Homo sapiens: one gene and its partners. The protein of the gene in region 1 purifies or fractionates together with the protein of each later gene. This does not show direct contact. Each region holds a gene or a part of one and is shown in the gene's direction. Other genes may lie near its edges.

Region 1 (7,872 bases):
GAAGGGCATCTGAGTTGTTTCTAGTTTTTGGCTATTATGAACAAGCTGTTATGTAGGTTTTTGTATGCAGGTTTTTCATTTCTTTGGGATAAATGCCCAATAATGTAATTGCTGGGTAATAAGGTAGTTATATGTTTCAGCTGCCATACTTTTGGCTATAACATTTTACATTTCTAGCAGCAATGTATGAATGATCCAACATCCTCATCAATATTTGATGTTGTCACTTTTTTATTGTAGTCATTCCAATAGTTGTGTAGTGATACACTGTGGTTTTACTTTGCCTTTTCCTAATGGATAATGATATTGAATATCATTTCATGTGCTTAGCCTCCCGAGTACCTAGGACCAGAGCCATGTGCTACCACCCCCAGCTAATTTTTAAAAATTTCTTTTGTAGAGAAGTGTTCTTGCTATGTTGTCCAGGTTGGTCTGGAACTCCTGGGCTCAAGGGATTCTCTCGCCTCCTCCTCTCAAAATGCTGGAATTACAGGCATGAGCCACTCTGCATGGCCAGTGGTATTGTTTTAATTTTGGTGTTCATGTGTCTGTTGGTAATATATAGAAATACAATTGATGTAATTTTATCTTCTGCCCTGTAACTTTGCTGCATTCATTTATAGAAGTTCTCTCTCTCTCTTTCTTTTTTCTTTTTTCTTCCTTCTCTACCTTTGTTCCTCCTCTTCCTCCTCCTCCTCCTCCTTCTCCTCCCCCTCCTCCTCCTCTTCTTTCTGTAGATTTTCTGGGATTTTCTACACAATCATGTCACCTGGAAATAGGAAGTTTTATTTCTTTTATTCTCTCTTGTGTCACTTTTGTTTTCCTTTTTTTGCCCTTTGCACTGGCTTGAACATCCAGTTTTATGCTAAGAGCATTATTATTAAGAACATTGAGAGTAGACAGCTTTGCCATGTTCCTGTTCTTAGGAGAAAAACATTCAGTTTTACCATCAATGTTAGCGGTAGGCTTTACGTAGATTCTCTCTACTGAGTTGTGAAATTTCCTCTCTATTCCTATTTTTATAAGAACAACTTTTAAAAAAAAAAGATATGTGGTCTTGCTGTGTTGTCAGGATGGCCTCAAACTCCTGGGCTCAAGTGATCTTCTCACCTCAGCCCCACAGTAGCTTGGACTATAGGAGTACCAAACCAACCCAGCTAGAATGAATATTTTAAAATGCTTTAAAAAGTTTTGCATCAGTTGATTTTCTTTTCTTCTTCAACCTATGCGATTTTTCTTTTTTAGCCTATAAATACAGTGGATTATATGGATTGAATTTTGAAGTTTAATCAGTCTTGCATCCTTGGAATAGATCAGTCTTGCATCCTTGGAATAGACCCCACTTGGTCATGGTATGTAATTCTTTATACATATTGCTGAATTCTGTTTTCTAATATTTTATTAAGAATTTTTGCGTCTATATTTATTAGGAATATTGGTATGTAGTTTTCTTTTTTGTTGCTATCTTTGTCTGATTTGGTATCAGGGTATTACTAACTTCATAAAATGAATTGAGAAATCATCTCTCTTCCTCTTTTTCTGGAAGAGATTGTGTAGAATTAATGTTAATTCTTCTTTAAACATTTGACAGAATTTCCCAGTGAAACCATGTAGTCATGGAGATTTCTTTTTTGGGAGTTTAACAATTACAAATTCAATTTCCTTTATAGTTATAGGGCATGAAATTTACTTATTTCATACTGAGCGAGTTGTAGCAGTTTGTGTTTTTTGAGAAATTTGTCCATTTCATCTAAGTTGTCAAATTCAAGTCCATAGCTCTGTTTGTGGGGTTTCCTTGCTATTTTTTTGATGTCTACAGGGTCTGTAATTATATCTTCTGCTTTATTCTTAATATTGTCAATTTTCTAGGAGTGGCAGGCTCGCTGGTTTGTTCTTAATATGTGTATATTTTTAGTTACACAAGTTATATGTTAGTACATTTTTGTTATAGAATTCTAATCATCCAGAGTATGAAATATAAGGAGTAGAGTTCTCTTTCATTATCTTCTGCACCTGTTCCTCTCATCCTCCTTCTTGACTCAGAGGTAAGGAAAGTGAACAGTTTGGGGTATGTCTTCCAGGACTGTGACTCCTACCCCTAAGTAATATTTGGTCACCTGGTGGACATTTTTTCCCTGACTCTTCAAGGATCAGAAGGAGTTTTGATGATGAATCTGGTGGTGGGGGAAGTCAAAGAGGAACAGAGGAAAGCCAGAGGGGGAGGTCAGAGGGAGGAACAAACAGCCATCTTTGTCGGCTACAAGAGGAGGCTCCTTTGATCTAGTGTCCCCACATGTTCCCCACATGAAGGCTATGACTTCAGGGGCAGATGTAGAATGGCCTCTTTTGGTGGGGTACCAGATGAAGGAGTCCACAAGCCTAGCTTCTGGAAAATATCTGATCTTTCAGCAAATTCTGTTGTCTCTTCCTACAAAATACATCCAGAAGATGACCACTATCCATTATTTTCACATCTAACATTGTGATCCAAACCAGTCTCATCTCTCTCCTGGATTATTGCAATAGGCCCACTGTTCTCTCTGATTCAGCCTTTGCCTTCTAAAAGTCTATTCTCAACACAGTTACCAGAGTGATCTTTTCAAATGTAATTTCTCCTGCAAAACTCTGCAAGCTTCCCATGTCACTGAATCTAAAACTAATCAATTATCTAGACCTAACTACCTGTTTACAAGGCAATTCAGCTCATAGGGGAACATCTAGATAACATCACAAGAATACAATTAACCATTTCCAAACTGTGGAAAATTCTAGAAGATAAATTACTCAGTTTTTTCCAACAGGTGAATGCCTTAAAAAGGGAGGGAGAACTGTTATAGACTAAAAGATGTATCAACCAATCACAATGTGTGGACTTTGTTTGGATCTTGATCTCAACAATACAGTTATACAAAGATATTTTAGCATATTTGGAGGAAATTGAGTATGGCTTGGTTATGAAATTATATAAAAGAATTATGATTAAATTCATTTGGTGAGATAATGATATTTCTGTTATGCTTTTTAAAAGTTCATATCTTTGTAGGTACATACTGCTGCATTCAAGGAGAAATGACATAATGTCTGGAATTTGCTTTAAAATACAGCAAGTCCCCCACTCCTCTATCTCAAACACCTAAATAAAAAGAAATGAACAAAAGACTAAAAGTCTGTGTGTGTGGTGGTTGGAACAAGAATGGCAGAATACTGATAACTGTTGAAACTGGATTATGTGTACATGAAACTGCATTCCTATTATACAATTCTCTCTACTTTAGTCTGAAAATTTCTACCACCCAAAAAAATGCTCTTTGGCCCCTCTTTTTTAGGGATTCTTTAAGAAACTGGAGATTTAATCTCATCAGCAAATTTTTACAAGGCTACATTTGCCCTATCTTCATTCTCCTTCTGCCTGGGGACAGTCTGCAGTGCCCTTTCAAATTTGGGCCCATCTTGGTCCTCTGGGTATTTCTACTGCTTTTTTAATGCAGTGATTTCTGGGAGTCCCCCTCATACTTGTCAACTAATAGTCCCACTGGACTGGGGCCACTGCCCCAAATAAGGTGTCTCTAATTTTAGATTGGAATCAGGAAGATCCAGATGGGTTGCCACTTATAACTGGTATACATTTCAGCCCATGAGCAGAGATGTGCAGGAAATAGTATGCAATTTTCTTATGTAACTCCATTTAATTTGTAATTTAAGCCTTGGTTCTGTTGATGTCCTCTTTGGATTTCCACCCCTCCCTATTTGGAAATCATACAGGGCTGAGGTTTTGAGGGTGGGGTGAGAGCATAGTCTCTGGTTATTGGAGCATACAGCTGAAGTTTAGATGCCCATCAGCTCAGCTGCCAGGGAGTCTTTAGGTGGTGTGGCTCCTATGCCATGTGTGAGATAGGTCGCCATGATTCTGCCTGTACGCATAATACAGGCAGCCCTTCTTGAAGTTTTTGCCACATGTACCTCTTCAGCCACATTTTAGAGGGCTCCTCTCCTCCATAGTTTGAAGATCCCTCTCTCTCTCTGACCTAATCAGTACCTCTCAACACTATAGTAGAGCAAGAAGGGGGCATGCCTAGTTAAAAAAAATCCTGCTTCCGTTATGTTTCTGCTAACTTTCCTCTTTCCTACAGAGTTTGAGATTTTAGAAATAAAAGTCAGGTGGGGTGTGGTGGCTCATGCCTACAATCCTAGCACTTTGGGAGCCTGAGGCAGGAGGATAGCTTGAGGCTAGGAGTTCAAGACCAACCTGGGCAACATACTGAGACCCTGTTTCTCAAAAAAAAAAAAAAAAAAAAAAATTAGCCGGGTGTGGTGCCTCGTGTCTGGTGCCTGTTGTCCCAGCTACTCGGGAGGCTGAAGTGTGATGATCACTTGAGCCTAGGGGCTGAAGTGACCCTATGATCACACCACTGCAATCCAGCCTGGGCAACAGAGAGAGACCCTGTCTCTGAACAAACAAAACAAAATAAAAACAACAAAAAAAAAAAAAAGAAAGAAAAGTCAAGATGATTAACATGCTATTGCTGCTTTCAGCCCTGCCATACCCCTCCTCTGAGCAATGAACACAAAGCCTGCTACCTGCTTGAGTCCAGAAGGGAAAGGGTGAAAAAAAAAGAAGAAAAGAAAAAAATTAAACAGAACATGTTAACATCTCAAAATATTCTGCCACATTTGAAATACGGGAGAGTTGAATTCATTAGAGGACTTCTATTGGAAAAAAGGAATTGTTTTTGAAAATGATGTCTCTGCAGTTGCACAGACTGTGTTGGACCTAGGTCCGTAGAACGCCGTGATGTCATCATTGATGTCAGAGAATCTGCGATGGGCCTGGTGACCTTTGAACCTTAACAGCCCTGCAGTGTAGTGGGCACTGGGCAGTGCTGCTCCTTCACTAAGCGGTCTGAGTTCTTTAGCTATCTCGGAGATTCAACTACGTTTACTCGTACTGAATCTTTTTAATGAATTTCCTGAGAGCCAAGAAGGGCCAATCTACAGGAAAAAGTGGGAGGTGGACATTAAGCATCTTCTAGAAACTCTTCTAGCTGATATCATGAAACGACGACAAAAGAGGAAACATTTGGAAAATGAAGAGTCCCAGGAAACCGCTGAGAAGGGAGGAGGTATGTGCGGGGCAAACTTTCTGGGGCACAAGCGTCACTGGCCAGCCTGAGCCGCCTTCTTTTTCTTTTTTGAGACGGAGTCTCGCTCTATCGCCCAGGCTGGAGTGCAGTGGCGCGATCTTGGCTCACTGAAAGCTCTGCCTCTCGGGTTCACGCCATTCTCCTGCCTCAGCCTCCCGAGTAGCTGGGACTACAGGTGCCCACCACCACGCCCGGCTAATTTTTTGTATTTTTAGTAGAGACGGGGTTTCACCGTGTTAGCCAGGATGGTCTCGATCTCCTGACCTCCTGATCCGCCTGCCTCGGCCTCCTTTTTTTTTTTTTTTTCGTTTCTGAGACAGAGTCTTGCTCTGTCGCCCAGGCTGGAGTGCAGTGGTGTGAGCTCGGCTCACTGCAAGCTCCGCCTCCCAGGTTCACGCCATTCACCTGCCTCAGCCTCCCGAGTAGCTGGGACTATAGGCGCCCGCCACCACGCCTGGCTAATTTTTTTTTTTTTTTTTTTTTTTGTATTTGTAGTAGAGACAGGGTTTCACCGTGTTAGCCAGGATGGTTTCGATCTCCTGACCTCATGATCCACCTGCCTCGGCCTCCCAAAGTGCTGGGATTATAGGCGTGAGCCATCGCTCCCGGCCAGCCTGAGCCTTCTTTAGGGAGGAGAAACTGAGGAGAATGTACCACCTATGCAGTAGGGAGGGGAAGACCTGGCTGTTGGCTGATGCCCGCACATCCATCTTGAGGGTACCCAGATGTGAGACGGACAGGAAGTTCAGATGCCACTGGCACACAGAAAGCCAACCCTGCTGGGCTGAGAACTTTTGCTCTGGGGCTGCTGGTACCTGGAACTATGCCAGTCTCAGGCAGGCGGGGGACCCACTTACAAAGACCCAGTGATGCAGCCTGAGTCTCATCTTTCTCTCGTATTCTCTTTATTTGCTCTTTCTCTGGGGTGACTGAGGTGGAAGGTGTGAAGGGTGCTGGTAGAAGTCTATGATTTGCACTACACCTTTTAGCAGAAACGAGAGTAGCCCAATGAGTTAAAGGCCTTGTTGAAAAATATCTTGAGAAGTGAAATGCTTGTTAGAAAGTAGATTAAACACTTGTTTAGGGATGGCGTCATAGTGAAACCACGGAGGTTTGATTGCTTCAGCGGGAAGAATTAACCAATTAATCCAATAGAGTTTGTGAATCCACAGTGTGGGACTTCCCAGAGGAAATGAAGCACAGGGTAAGGGCCTCAGATCGCTGTCAATTTACTTCCCAGGCTGCATGATAATGGCATGTATTAAATGTAAACAAGCCACTTATCCTGAAAGGGGGATGCTCACATGCAGGAGACAGGGCAGAAAGGAGCCTGCCCCAGAGATGGCCCTGGAGGCTTCTGCCCCGATTAGAGCTCAGCAGCGCCTATGAGGCATAAAGACCTGTAGGTTGAGCCCTGGGAATGGAGGCGTGGAGAGTAGGCATGGAGAGCAGGGGGCTGGGACAGGAAGGGGAAGGCAATGGTTTTCCTCTCCTTCATCTACCCTTACATTTCAGAATGTTTTGTCTGCCTGTGTGTGTGTCTGTGTGTGCACATGTGTGTGTGTGTTGGGAGGGGGAGGACTGGAGATAATGGGAGCACAGTGGTGGGGTCTGCGGGGTGAACTTCCTATCACCATGCCTGGGCCTGGGCAACACTCAATACACATAACAGTGTATACCGAATTTTTGTTAAGGGTATTCCAGGAGACAGTCACTCATATGCCCATATATACTCTGATACAGAGAAAGAGTCACACACCTCCACACACAGTGGATATAGTTATATACACATACCGTTCCTCTATTACATACTCACACAACCCATGTGTGTGACAGTCTTTTCTTCCTACAGAGATTTCTTGTGTGTGGGGAGTGTGTGTGTGTGTCTCCTCAACTCTCACACAAACACATCTATGTTAAACTATCTCTAAATACCTCTTTAAGAGCCAGTCACACATCATACATGCCATATCTGCAACACATTGTGTAGCAGAGCCAGGCCTGCTTTGCATAGACCACAACGAAACAAAGATTCACCACCATCCCCTTATTAGGGTTGCCGGATAAAATACAGGATGTTCAGTTAAACTTGAATATCAGATAAACCACCAATGATTTTTTAGTATAAGTGTGTCCCAAATATTTTATGGAACATACTGACACTAAAAATAAGTATGACAAATATTGCACGGGACATACTTACGCTAAAAAAATTATTTGTAATTTATCTAAAATTCAAATTTAACTTGGCATCAGCTATTTTTGTTTGCTAAATCTGATGACCCTTATAAATTCATAATGAGCTGACCTATGATATACTTATATATTTCTGCTTAATGTCTGTCTTCCTTGTCTAGAATGGAAAGTCCACTTAGAAGAAGGACTGTTTTGTTCAGTATTCCTAGAGCCTAGAAGAGTGGACTGGTGTCTGATTCATGGTAGCTGTTCATGAAAATATTGCCAGATGAATGAATTAATGTACATTATAAATACAAGCCACACCATACAATCAGGAAAAATTACATATTGCATAATTTCAGGGTTGTAAACACAAAACTATGCACACAAACTCCACAGACACAGACACATGTTTCTACAATATACCCACACAAATCTACACATATCAAAGGCTATCTGGTATGTATCACTCTTACGCTTCAGACGTACTCATAGTCACCACACAGGCCTATGTTCCTATTGATACACTATCAAAATACCTGTTGACTGTAAT
Region 2 (3,409 bases), on another chromosome or scaffold:
ACATACAAATCCCATAAGGCCAACGACCACTCTTCTGGAACACCAAGAGCAGCTCTGAGATCATGCTGGCCCTACGCGAATTGAGTTTCTGTGGCCTAATTGGATTTGGAGAACGCCTTCCCTGGCCCCTTTTCCTCAGACAGATCTGCTCTGATAGGAACCTTTTCAAGAAAGTTACTGTTGTTTCAATGCCACTCCTTACCTGTATAGAACATTTCCAATACATTCGCTCATTGAACTTAATCCTTGCAACTGTGACTGGGGGGTAGATGGCTCTGTTTGCATACGAAGAAATAAAGGCTCCAGGAGGTTAAATCGGGCAACTTTTTAGAACTAAATCAGTCTCTGTAAGGCCTACATTGCTAAGATACCATTTCAGCTCTGAAAATCTGCTTCAGGGAAGTGAGTGGATGAGGCCTTCCTGCCTCAGCTACTCTGCCCGTCTGTACATCTTTTGTGTCTGCCTCCGTACCTTATTCAGTTATTTTCACACTAAAGTAAGTAGAATTAAGACTGTAGTTCAGATGCTTTTTCTTTTTCTGTTGGAAACTGAACACACTACAGACAGTGAAAAAAGGTACATATTCCATTTTCTCATTGCCTGAAGATCTCTGCTGATGCTCCTGGAGAATGACTTTGGGGGCTTTAGAAAGAATATTGCCAGTCCGTCTCGGCAAGGAGATGATGGGAGCGCTTTATATGGAGGCTTTACATGACTTGTAAATTAAATGTGAATGAGGGCAGTTGATTAAAATTGGTATTACAGAAGGGCCCTGCTGAGGTTTGAAAACAGCTGAGCTGCTGATGTCTCAGGCCTTTCCCTGAATTAGCACTGCGGTTCTCCAGGATATCAGCAAAGAGGGCAAGTAATAGAAGCCCCTGATAAGGAGCGTCAGCCGACAGGCAAGCTTGGGAGGCTGTGGGAATGGGTCTGCCCCCAGCTTCACAGACCTCTTCCTCCAGCCTCTGAATCCCATTAGCCACAGCCTAGAACATTAGCTGAGCTGCACAAGCTCACCCACCCCTGTGCCAGGGGGCCCTGACCTCCCTCCATGCCATGTTTTTGGCTGTATCTACGGCACTTAACAATAGGGGCTTTTTATTTTCATTACAGAGATATTTTGAAAAATTTAAAAGACATGAACTCACATAAACAGTTATGGATGATAGTTAAAAGAGAAACGGGTGGAGGTGGATGAGAGGTTGTCTTCATGAATATAATTACTTGAGATTTTTTTTTCTTAATGGAATTAGTTTATTAGAAAATGTCTGTGTTAAATCCGTAGAAAAGGAAGAAAAGTGTAGCAACAAAAATGTAGCCATTATCTAACTTGCCATAAATATTTGCAGTTATGATACCTTGGAATGTTGCCACGATATGGATTGCTTTGATTAAAAGATGTCAGTTGAATAAAACAGTACTGTGGGAGAATCGCTTTCTGCTGCTAGATAAATGCTGATGTTTATTTTTAAACCAGGAAACATTGATCCTGTAACAATGCCCGATTACAATTGCTTTATTACACCCCAGGGCTGATGGAGATGTAATCACTTGGCTAATGGATGTGGGTGCAGGACAGATGCTCGCTTGCTGGCCTGCTTTCCTGCTTGCATTCTGATGAGCTGCAGGAGTGCGCCTGGCCTTCTGCAGGTGGAGCTGCTGTCAGAGCTTCGTTTCACTGATACCCAAAGCCATGTCTGACTGAAATAAAACAGGTTCCCTTTTTTTTTCCCTTTGGAAAATGCCAACTAAGGGAGACTAATCAGATATCTTAACACAATTTCATCCAGGCTTAGTGCTAACAAGATTGCGGGGCTTTTTAGGGTTTAAGAAGATGAGAAATGAGTGTGCACGTTTCACACGTTGACTTGCCGGTTTTTCCATGTCATACAAAAAAGTCCTGGCTGTTTCTCCGAACTGGCTGCCTGCATTCCCGTCTTTCTTTTGTTTTTAAGAAATAGACTGAATTCAGCTGTTAATCCTCTAGTACAGTATCCATGTTAAAATGTTTTTCCATTGCATCTTTTATGTGAATTCAAAGGTCAGAATTTATTGTCTGTGATATTGAGACCATGTGTACAAGAACTACTTTTTGCTTTTCATCATTCACTCCTTAGCAAACGTTTCGTAAGTACCCTCTGTCTGTTTGCTACTATATGAGGTGCTGCGAAATTAGTGGGCGTGGCTTTTTATATTTTTCATTCGTGTGTAGCCTAAGTAAGGTGACTCAAGATGATACACCGAGAGAAAAATGCAAAATATATTTGGTTCTCATTTCTGTTGCTGTCGTTTCCTTTTTAAAGACGATTTATCAACTGCTGCCATTTGGAACTTCCTATAAGAAACTAAAAATGATCTATTTCAGTGTTCCTTTCGCCTTTCCTCTGCTTTCTGAATAAATGGTTTCAGTAACCCATGCTGTTCTCTCCCTATTCTACGTCTTTCTCCCTATGTTGAAAAAAGATTCCCACAGTTTCTGATGTGTGTGTTTATAGTCTTCAATGTATGTTAACATGTTAGGAACTGAGTATCTTAAGAGATGTCTTAGAATGCTTTAGTTTTCATAATTTGTCCTTTATGTATTTTTCATTGTATTTGCTGTTTTGACATGGAAGTAATTTAAAAAGTTGGTGCAGGAAAGGACTCTTTACTGTTGCACATTTTGGTTTTCTGATATGTAATAAATTCATGGCTTGGCAGCTGACATGATGTTTCCCAGAGAGAAGGAGATGTATTTCTGCAGGGTCCAGACCAAAAGAGCCATTTACAGCATGTTCTCCCATGTTCCATTATCAGCCTGATGAAACCTGCCCTGCCAAGGCATAAACTTTTGTACTAGCTGTCTCCATATTATGTTCAATAAATTCTGTGCTCTGAATATATTTAAAGGATGCTTCAGTGTAAAATTATTTTGAATGGATGGCTTAATTCCATTGAGATAGGCTTTGGAGTGTGGACTAGAGCCCGTTGCTCGACTCTCACTGCTTTGTAGGAACATGAAATTGGTTTAAATTAAAATCAGAGACCTTTTGCACCAGAAAACAGATCTAAGAGATCACTTAGGTCAACGTCTTCATTTTACTGATGAGGAAACTTTTGCCCAGAGAGCTTAAGCACAGGGACCAGCTTGCATGTCAGTGTTTTCCTATTGGGGGAAGTGTGTGTCATCAGTGATTTACAAAGGTACCCACCTGTGTAAATTGCTTCCAGCTTTGAAAGGTGGGTGGATTCTGTCTTTTAAGTAGTGGTTGACAGTTCTCCATCTTACAGTGTTACCTTGTTAAAACGTTAATGAAAACAATTTTAACTTCTTTTGGAAAAGTAAGGTGGGCAAATGGTAAGACTTCACACAAGACCAAGGGGTACACAGTATACAAAATCAGGTTTCCTCCATTCCCAAACCTTTCT
Region 3 (6,994 bases), about 30 Mb from region 1:
ATTGGGTGGCGGGCAGGGATAGAATATCCTTGTTAGTTATATAAAAATAAACTTTTTTTTGCTTTTTGCAGATTTGAAATTTAATTAAGCTATTAACTTCTTAATCATCACATCCTCCAACTCTGTTTTAACTCCCCCCTCCCCCTCCCCTTTTTTTTTAAGGAATAAAGGGATTCATTCCTCATTTTAACTGATGTTACAGTGAAGATGGGTTCTTGAACTCTTGGAAGCCTGGATGAGCCACCTAATCTGCAAGATAAAAACCAAAGACCAATGCGTATTGGGGAAAAGAATGCTTAGTACTGCAAGACTGTTGAATACCTGTTGAATATTCCTATTGAGGTTTTTTCCTAAACATACTTCAGTAACATCTTAGGACAATTCACTGGAGAAATGTTGATCCCTGGCTGGAATGTCATACCATTGACCCATTTGAAGAGTTAAAGCTGGATTTGACTGCTCTATTCTACCAGGAATATTGTTAGGGTAGCCTTTTACCAGTTTCTAAACAATTGTAATCATTTATTGACTCAGCAATTCCTCAGATAACAGGTCAAAAGATGTACAGATACATTCTGAAGTTTTCTTGCTATTAAAGGCACAAGAGTTTCCTTGTATTTTGACTGACAATGTAGCATGTTTCCATTTTAGTTTGTTAGTGATGGTGGTTTTCCCTTTGAAAGCCATTTGGTATATTCACCATAACAATTAGTTTAATATGATTACATAAGAAAACTATGATAAAACCCAGCAATTTTAGTAGTTGTGAAAATACGTTTTTTAAATCATGTTTAAGAAGAATTGCAAGACTTGAAACCAAATCCTGATGGGGGAATTCTGTTTAATCCTGTTTAATCTGTTTAATTTCTGTTTAATCCTTAGTTTCTTAACCTGCATAGCTTATCCTGTATTGTACTTTTTTTCTTTTTTAAACTCCCAAACAAGAAGCTTGAAACTTTTCCTGTATTTTAAAATTGAAATTTGGTCACAGGGTATAGTCAGATTTTTATTAAGGTTTGGTTTGACAACCTTTAAAAGAAAGGTTTACCTCGCTAATACTTCTTAATAACATGCATCAAATGATATTCCCTATGGTGAAGTATATTCTCAAAGTTATGTTATCTTTCATTTTTGGCATTTGGTGCTTATGGACTTAGTACCCAGGCAACAAAGATCTATTATGCACCTACTCTCTTGTATGTTCGCTATTATTTCCCAAAAAAAAAAAGGGGCATATATGCATAAGAAATAAATATTAGAATTATTTTGTTTCTCCCACAAAGCCCATGGGAGATGGCCCAACAAATGTTTAAAAAGTAAAAGAAGCTGGGCACGGTGGCTCCCACCTGTAACCCCCACACTTTGGGAGGCCATGGCGGGTGGATCACGAGGTCAGGAGTTTGAGACCAGCCTGGCCAACACAGTGAAACTGTGTCTCTACTATAAATACAAAAATTAGCCAGGCATGGTGGCAGGCACCTATAGTCCCAGCTACTCAGGAGGCTGAGGCAGGAGAATCGCTTGAACCCAGGAGGCAGAGGTTGCGGTGAGCCAAGATCATGCCACTGCCCTCCAGCCTGGGTGACAGAGCGAGACTGTCTCCAAAAAAAAAGAAAAAAGAACTAAAAGAAAAGGAGCAGTTTATGATTGAAGAAAACATGACCTGGGCTGAAGAAGTGAGGATTGATTGGAGTGGGCTAGAATGAGCTATAGTTTCTAGCTCATTTGTAAGGAGGTAGACAAAGGAGCATTGGTGCCTCAGAGTGGGTGTCTGGTGAGAGGAAAAACGGTGCTTAAGAGATTTTCAGGCTATTGCTGTGGGACAGGCATATTTTCTCCCTTTGCCTTTAGCTGTAGATAAAGTGTGGTTATGACCTGAGGCTTCTTGTATTCAAACTTGGCCTAGGGCCTATGTAGAGGCCCTAGGGTCTACTTGTGGTGGAGGAGGGAAGTATTTGTAGAATGTGTAGGCTTGAGAAGTAAATAAAGCCAAAAAAGCATCACTTGCTTACATTTTTAAATGAGTCACAAAACAATCTTTCTAATGCGGCCGGTAAAGAAGTTTTAAAGGTCTAAGGTTTCTCTACAGAAATTACATGCTTCTCAGGTCTTTGTTTAGTAAAATAATACAGATAATTATGCTTTGAATGCATTTATTATTAAAGCTAACCGTTTTAATTTGTGTCAGAAATAATTTGTGCCTATGGTAGGATTAAAATTGTATTCTTTAGTTAAAGCAAAGCAATCTGTTTTTCATTGATTTGATAAATATGTGAATGCCTAATATGTTCTGCATATGTAAAAATGCAGAAACATGCTCATTTGAATTACTAATAATTATTTTAGTATGCTGAGAGGCTTTGAATTCACTGTACCACTCCTTCCTAGAGTCATTCAAAACAGAAAAAATTAGTTTTAAGTATAGATTCATGTTTTTCTGTTTTAAAAAGTTGAGCTAATACTTTTCACAAGAGACGAAATAACATGAGCCACTATAATTATTGGCTCAGTTCCACCCAATTTCCATATTTTGGGTGTAATTTAAAATTTTTGACTTGGAATTTTAACTTTTTTTTTGTTTTGATTTTTTACCAGGTTTCTAAGCATGAATTGAGGAACAGAAGAAGCAGAGCAGATGATCGGAGCAGCATTTGTTTCTCCCCAAATCTAGAAATTTTAGTTCATATGTACACTAGCCAGTGGTTGTGGACAACCATTTACTTGGTGTAAAGAACTTAATTTCAGTATAAACTGACTCTGGGCAGCATTGGTGATGCTGTATCCTGAGTTGTAGCCTCTGTAATTGTGAATATTAACTGAGATAGTGAAACATGGTGTCCGGTTTTCTATTGCATTTTTTCAAGTGGAAAAGTTAACTAAATGGTTGACACACAAAAATTGGTGGAGAAATTGTGCATATGCCAATTTTTTGTTAAAACCTTTTGTTTTGAACTATACTGCTTTGAGATCTCATTTCAGAAGAACGGCATGAACAGTCTTCAGCCACAGTTGTGATGGTTGTTAAATGCTCACAATTGTGCATTCTTAGGGTTTTTCCATCCCTGGGGTTTGCAAGTTGTTCACTTAAAACATTCTTAAAATGGTTGGCTTCTTGTCTGCAAGCCAGCTGATATGGTAGCAACCAAAGATTCCAGTGTTTGAGCATATGAAAGACTCTGCCTGCTTAATTGTGCTAGAAATAACAGCATCTAAAGTGAAGACTTAAGAAAAACTTAGTGACTACTAGATTATCCTTAGGACTCTGCATTAACTCTATAATGTTCTTGGTATTAAAAAAAAAGCATATTTGTCACAGAAATTTAGTTAACATCTTACAACTGAACATGTATGTATGTTGCTTAGATAAATGTAATCACTGTAAACATCTATATGATCTGGGATTTTGTTTTTATTTTGAAATGGGAGCTTTTTTGTTTACAAGTTCATTAAAAACTAAAAACTGTTTCTGTAAGGAAATGAGATTTTTTTTAAACAACAAAAAATGCCTTGCTGACTCACTATTAAATAAAAATCTCCCCAATTTTTTGATAGACTACTTCAAGCCATTTGTTACATGGTATTCCTTTGCAAGTCAATTTAGGTTTCGTGTTATAACTTTTCCTCTTTTTTTAAGAAAAATGAAAAAAGTAATTCTTTTGTCTGAAGGGGAAAGGCATTCTTTCATTTTTTTCTTTTTTTTTTTTTTTTTTTATGACTTGCAGGCACAATATCTAGTACTGCAACTGCCAGAACTTGGTATTGTAGCTGCTGCCCGCTGACTAGCAGCTGGACTGATTTTGAATAAAAATGAAAGCATTAAAGGGTTTCCCTACAAAACATTTTTCTTTAAAATACTTTTGAAATGGCTATAAGCAGTTGACTTTCACCCTTGGAGAGCATCACACTGTGTGAGGTTCAGTGATTGTTGACCCTCCCCAGCCCCTCCTGCTTCTTTAAGTTATCTGTGTGCGTGCGCTTCCTCTCAATCTTCTTTGCACGCTCATTTCTTTTTCTCTGACCCATGAGAAAGGAAAACTTACTGATGATAATTTTTAAATAGTGTAATTTATTCATTTATAGCATGTCAGGATAAATTAAAAGAACATTTGTCTGGAAATGCTGCCGGGAGCCTATTGTGTAAATGTAGGTATTTTGTAAAATAACCTTGAAATTGTAAATTGACACGTGTTTGGTCAGATTGTGTCAAGTTTAATTTGTTTTGTTTTCTTTTTTCTTTTTTTTATTTGAAAACTACTTTAGCAATAATTAATTCCATGATTATCACATTCTGCCATTAAGGGATATTAGTACCGTAATACTGAAGAAATTTTATTAAGTCTGAACTTCTGGGGTAGGCAGCTTCTTTGTTTCTTTTCTATCCACCCTTGTCGGTTGAGGTATTTGTTTCTTGACTAATAAACCCTTTGATACTTTTAGCCAGAAATCAGTCTCATAAAGCTATTTTTGAGTATAGTTTGTGTAAAATAAAAATGTTTAGCTTTGGTAATAACTTCCAAGCTGAACTCCCTCTAGCAAGATATTTTTCAGTGCTTTTATTTACTATGCACTTAGACTATGCACTTTTTCTGAAATATTTTTGTAACACTTTTTTGTATTTTTGCCATTTGAAAAGGTTGTGGTGTAGTTGGTCTGTAATTAAGTTGCAGATTTAAAACTGCTGTTAGCTTTGTAAATCAAAATATAGGTGTTTTTTGTCCTGGTATATCGTCATTCCATCTGCAGCTGGAGCTGGAATCCCATTGATCTTCTAGCTACCATTCATTTTCTTCACTGTTCACAAAAGAAGAGTGTGAAATTCAGTGAATGCTGTTACTAATCCTGTTACGAGATGAATCTCATTTCACCAAAATTAAATTATGTTTTTCCGCTAAAATGATGATACAAGTTGAAGACACATCACTCTGAAATTGGAAGACCTCACCACTTAAGGCTCCACAGTGGCTTACTCAGCTGAACTCTAGGTTACTACTCTTTACTTTGTTCACCCATTGGGGGGTGCAGTTTTTTTAAAATGTTGGGAGATGGCCATTCTAACTACTGTTGAATGTCTCTGTTTTGGGAAGGTATAACAAGAAATAAAAAAGAATATATATGAAGGGAGAGACTGGTTATCTCCTCCCATATGGTTGTGCTTATCCTCTTATGGCTTACAAATGAATATTTGGAGGTTTGCTTTCACAATGATTTCCCATCAACAAATATTTTTAGTAGGATTTTTCCTGTTTCTGTTAGTCCTTGCAGTACTCATAAATGTTTTAAGCTGAGCATACTGTAATAGTCATAAGTTTAATTTCATTATAATAAAAATAATCAAACAAAAGGACTTTAGAACCCAAGACAATGAGCTAGTTTTCCCTAAAGTTTGCTGAACTATTAAGGAATATGTTCTTATAGCTTTTGACTAGAATGAGTCATGGGAATTCTAAGAAGGGATGGCCTAGACATTTTTAGCTCAGTTAAATTCAGCATTTAATGCAGGTGAGTTCCTGGGTCGTTTTCCAACTAGTCTGGAACAGTCTGGTTCTGACTCAAACTGGTATAAAGCATTATTTTAGGTTTTCTCTTTGCCAGTTTTTAAGCAGTTATAACCATGTAAATCAAGATGTGAGGACATCTATATGAAGTATAGTAAAGAAGTGGTGTCAGCAGATCAATATGTGTGTCCTGGGTGTGCTGCTCTCTTAAGTGAGACTTTGTGAGACTATACTTTAAATGCATTATTACCATTGCTTACATTTTGGGGGATTTTCTTCCTCCTCAAAACTTCCATTTCTATTGTAATATTCTTAATGACAATCTTTTTTTTTTTTTAGCAGTGTATGTTTGAAACAGCCAAAGATGGCGATGAACCAAGTGTAAATTGATCTAAGCAGCCCATGCAGTTTGTGTTGAATCAACAAACAGTGTATTGTTGAAGTGAAATTATTTTCTGAAATGACTTGTTAGACCAGTTTTGAGGACATACTCAAAAGTAGAGTAATAATGGCTCCTGGGATGGAGAAATATGAGATGAACCTGGAACATTCTATTATGGTGCCACAAAGGAAATCTAAAAAAAAAAAAAAAAAAAAAAGTGGTTGGCTAGGAGCAGTGGCACACGCCTGTGATTCCAGCACTTTGGGAGGCCGAAGTGGGCAGGAGTTCAAGACCAGCCTGGCCAACATAGTGAAACCCTGTCTCTACTAAAAATACAAAAATTAGCCGGGTGTGGTGGCGGGCGCCTGTAATCCCAGCTTTTCAAGAGGCTGAGGCAGAAGAATCGCTTGAACCCGGGAGATGGAGGTTGCAGTGAGCTGAGATCGTGCCACTGCACTCCAGCCTGGGCGTTGCAGTGAGACTCCGTCTCAACAACAACAAAAAGGTGGATACATGTCAAAAGGGCACAGGAGCCACTTGAAGGATTATACTTGCTAAATCTGTGTCAATTATCAAAATAAACTGGTAGCAACGTTACAACTCACTGAATAAGATACCATGATTCCATGTTGACTTAAAAATGGAGAGAAGAGAAAGCTCTAACTTGAATGTCAGCTAATTTAAGGTGAAAGGATTTTATGTGTTAGAAAAATCACCATTTTGCAAACTAGTTTTCAGAATCCTTAATATATGTCATCTCTTTTATTCCTCATAACAGTAATAAGAAACAGTTAACTGTTTCAGAAAAGAGTGGGGCTGCCCAAGGCAAGGCATGTTGGTAATTGGTAAGCTTTATAGAGCCAAGACCTCAACCTGATTTTCTTGCTTTCATGCAGTTAAGCCATGGTGCTCCTCTTGTTATATCACCCTTTTAAACCCAGAGATTGATAGTATTAGCCATCATTTGCTGAGTGTCATGCACTATTCTAAGTGCTTTACATGTATTTGCCTAATCAGCGCCCTGTGAAGTACATCCTGTCTCCATTTTGCATATAAGGATACCAAAGCACAGAGTTGGAGGGAAGATAGTTATATTCCCTTACTTTATTTATTTATT

What was found.
Region 2: the proteins of FAM170A (region 1) and VAPB purify together in Homo sapiens (affinity purification with mass spectrometry; 4 studies listed by BioGRID and IntAct, with this or other methods). This does not show direct contact.
Region 3: the proteins of FAM170A (region 1) and CSNK1A1 purify together in Homo sapiens (affinity purification with mass spectrometry; 4 studies listed by BioGRID and IntAct, with this or other methods). This does not show direct contact.

The regions. Positions count from the first base shown.
Region 1 is NC_000005.10:119,624,719-119,632,590, forward strand, and holds the start of FAM170A (protein FAM170A), read left to right. Parts: upstream 1-4,839; 5' UTR 4,840-5,050; coding exon 5,051-5,120; intron 5,121-7,872. UniProt on the Homo sapiens protein: Acts as a nuclear transcription factor that positively regulates the expression of heat shock genes. Binds to heat shock promoter elements (HSE).
Region 2 is NC_000020.11:58,448,213-58,451,621, forward strand, and holds the end of VAPB (vesicle-associated membrane protein-associated protein B/C), read left to right. Parts: 3' UTR 1-2,889; downstream 2,890-3,409. UniProt on the Homo sapiens protein: Endoplasmic reticulum (ER)-anchored protein that mediates the formation of contact sites between the ER and endosomes via interaction with FFAT motif-containing proteins such as STARD3 or WDR44.
Region 3 is NC_000005.10:149,492,462-149,499,455, reverse strand, and holds the end of CSNK1A1 (casein kinase I isoform alpha), read left to right. Parts: intron 1-2,595; coding exon 2,596-2,603; 3' UTR 2,604-6,474; downstream 6,475-6,994.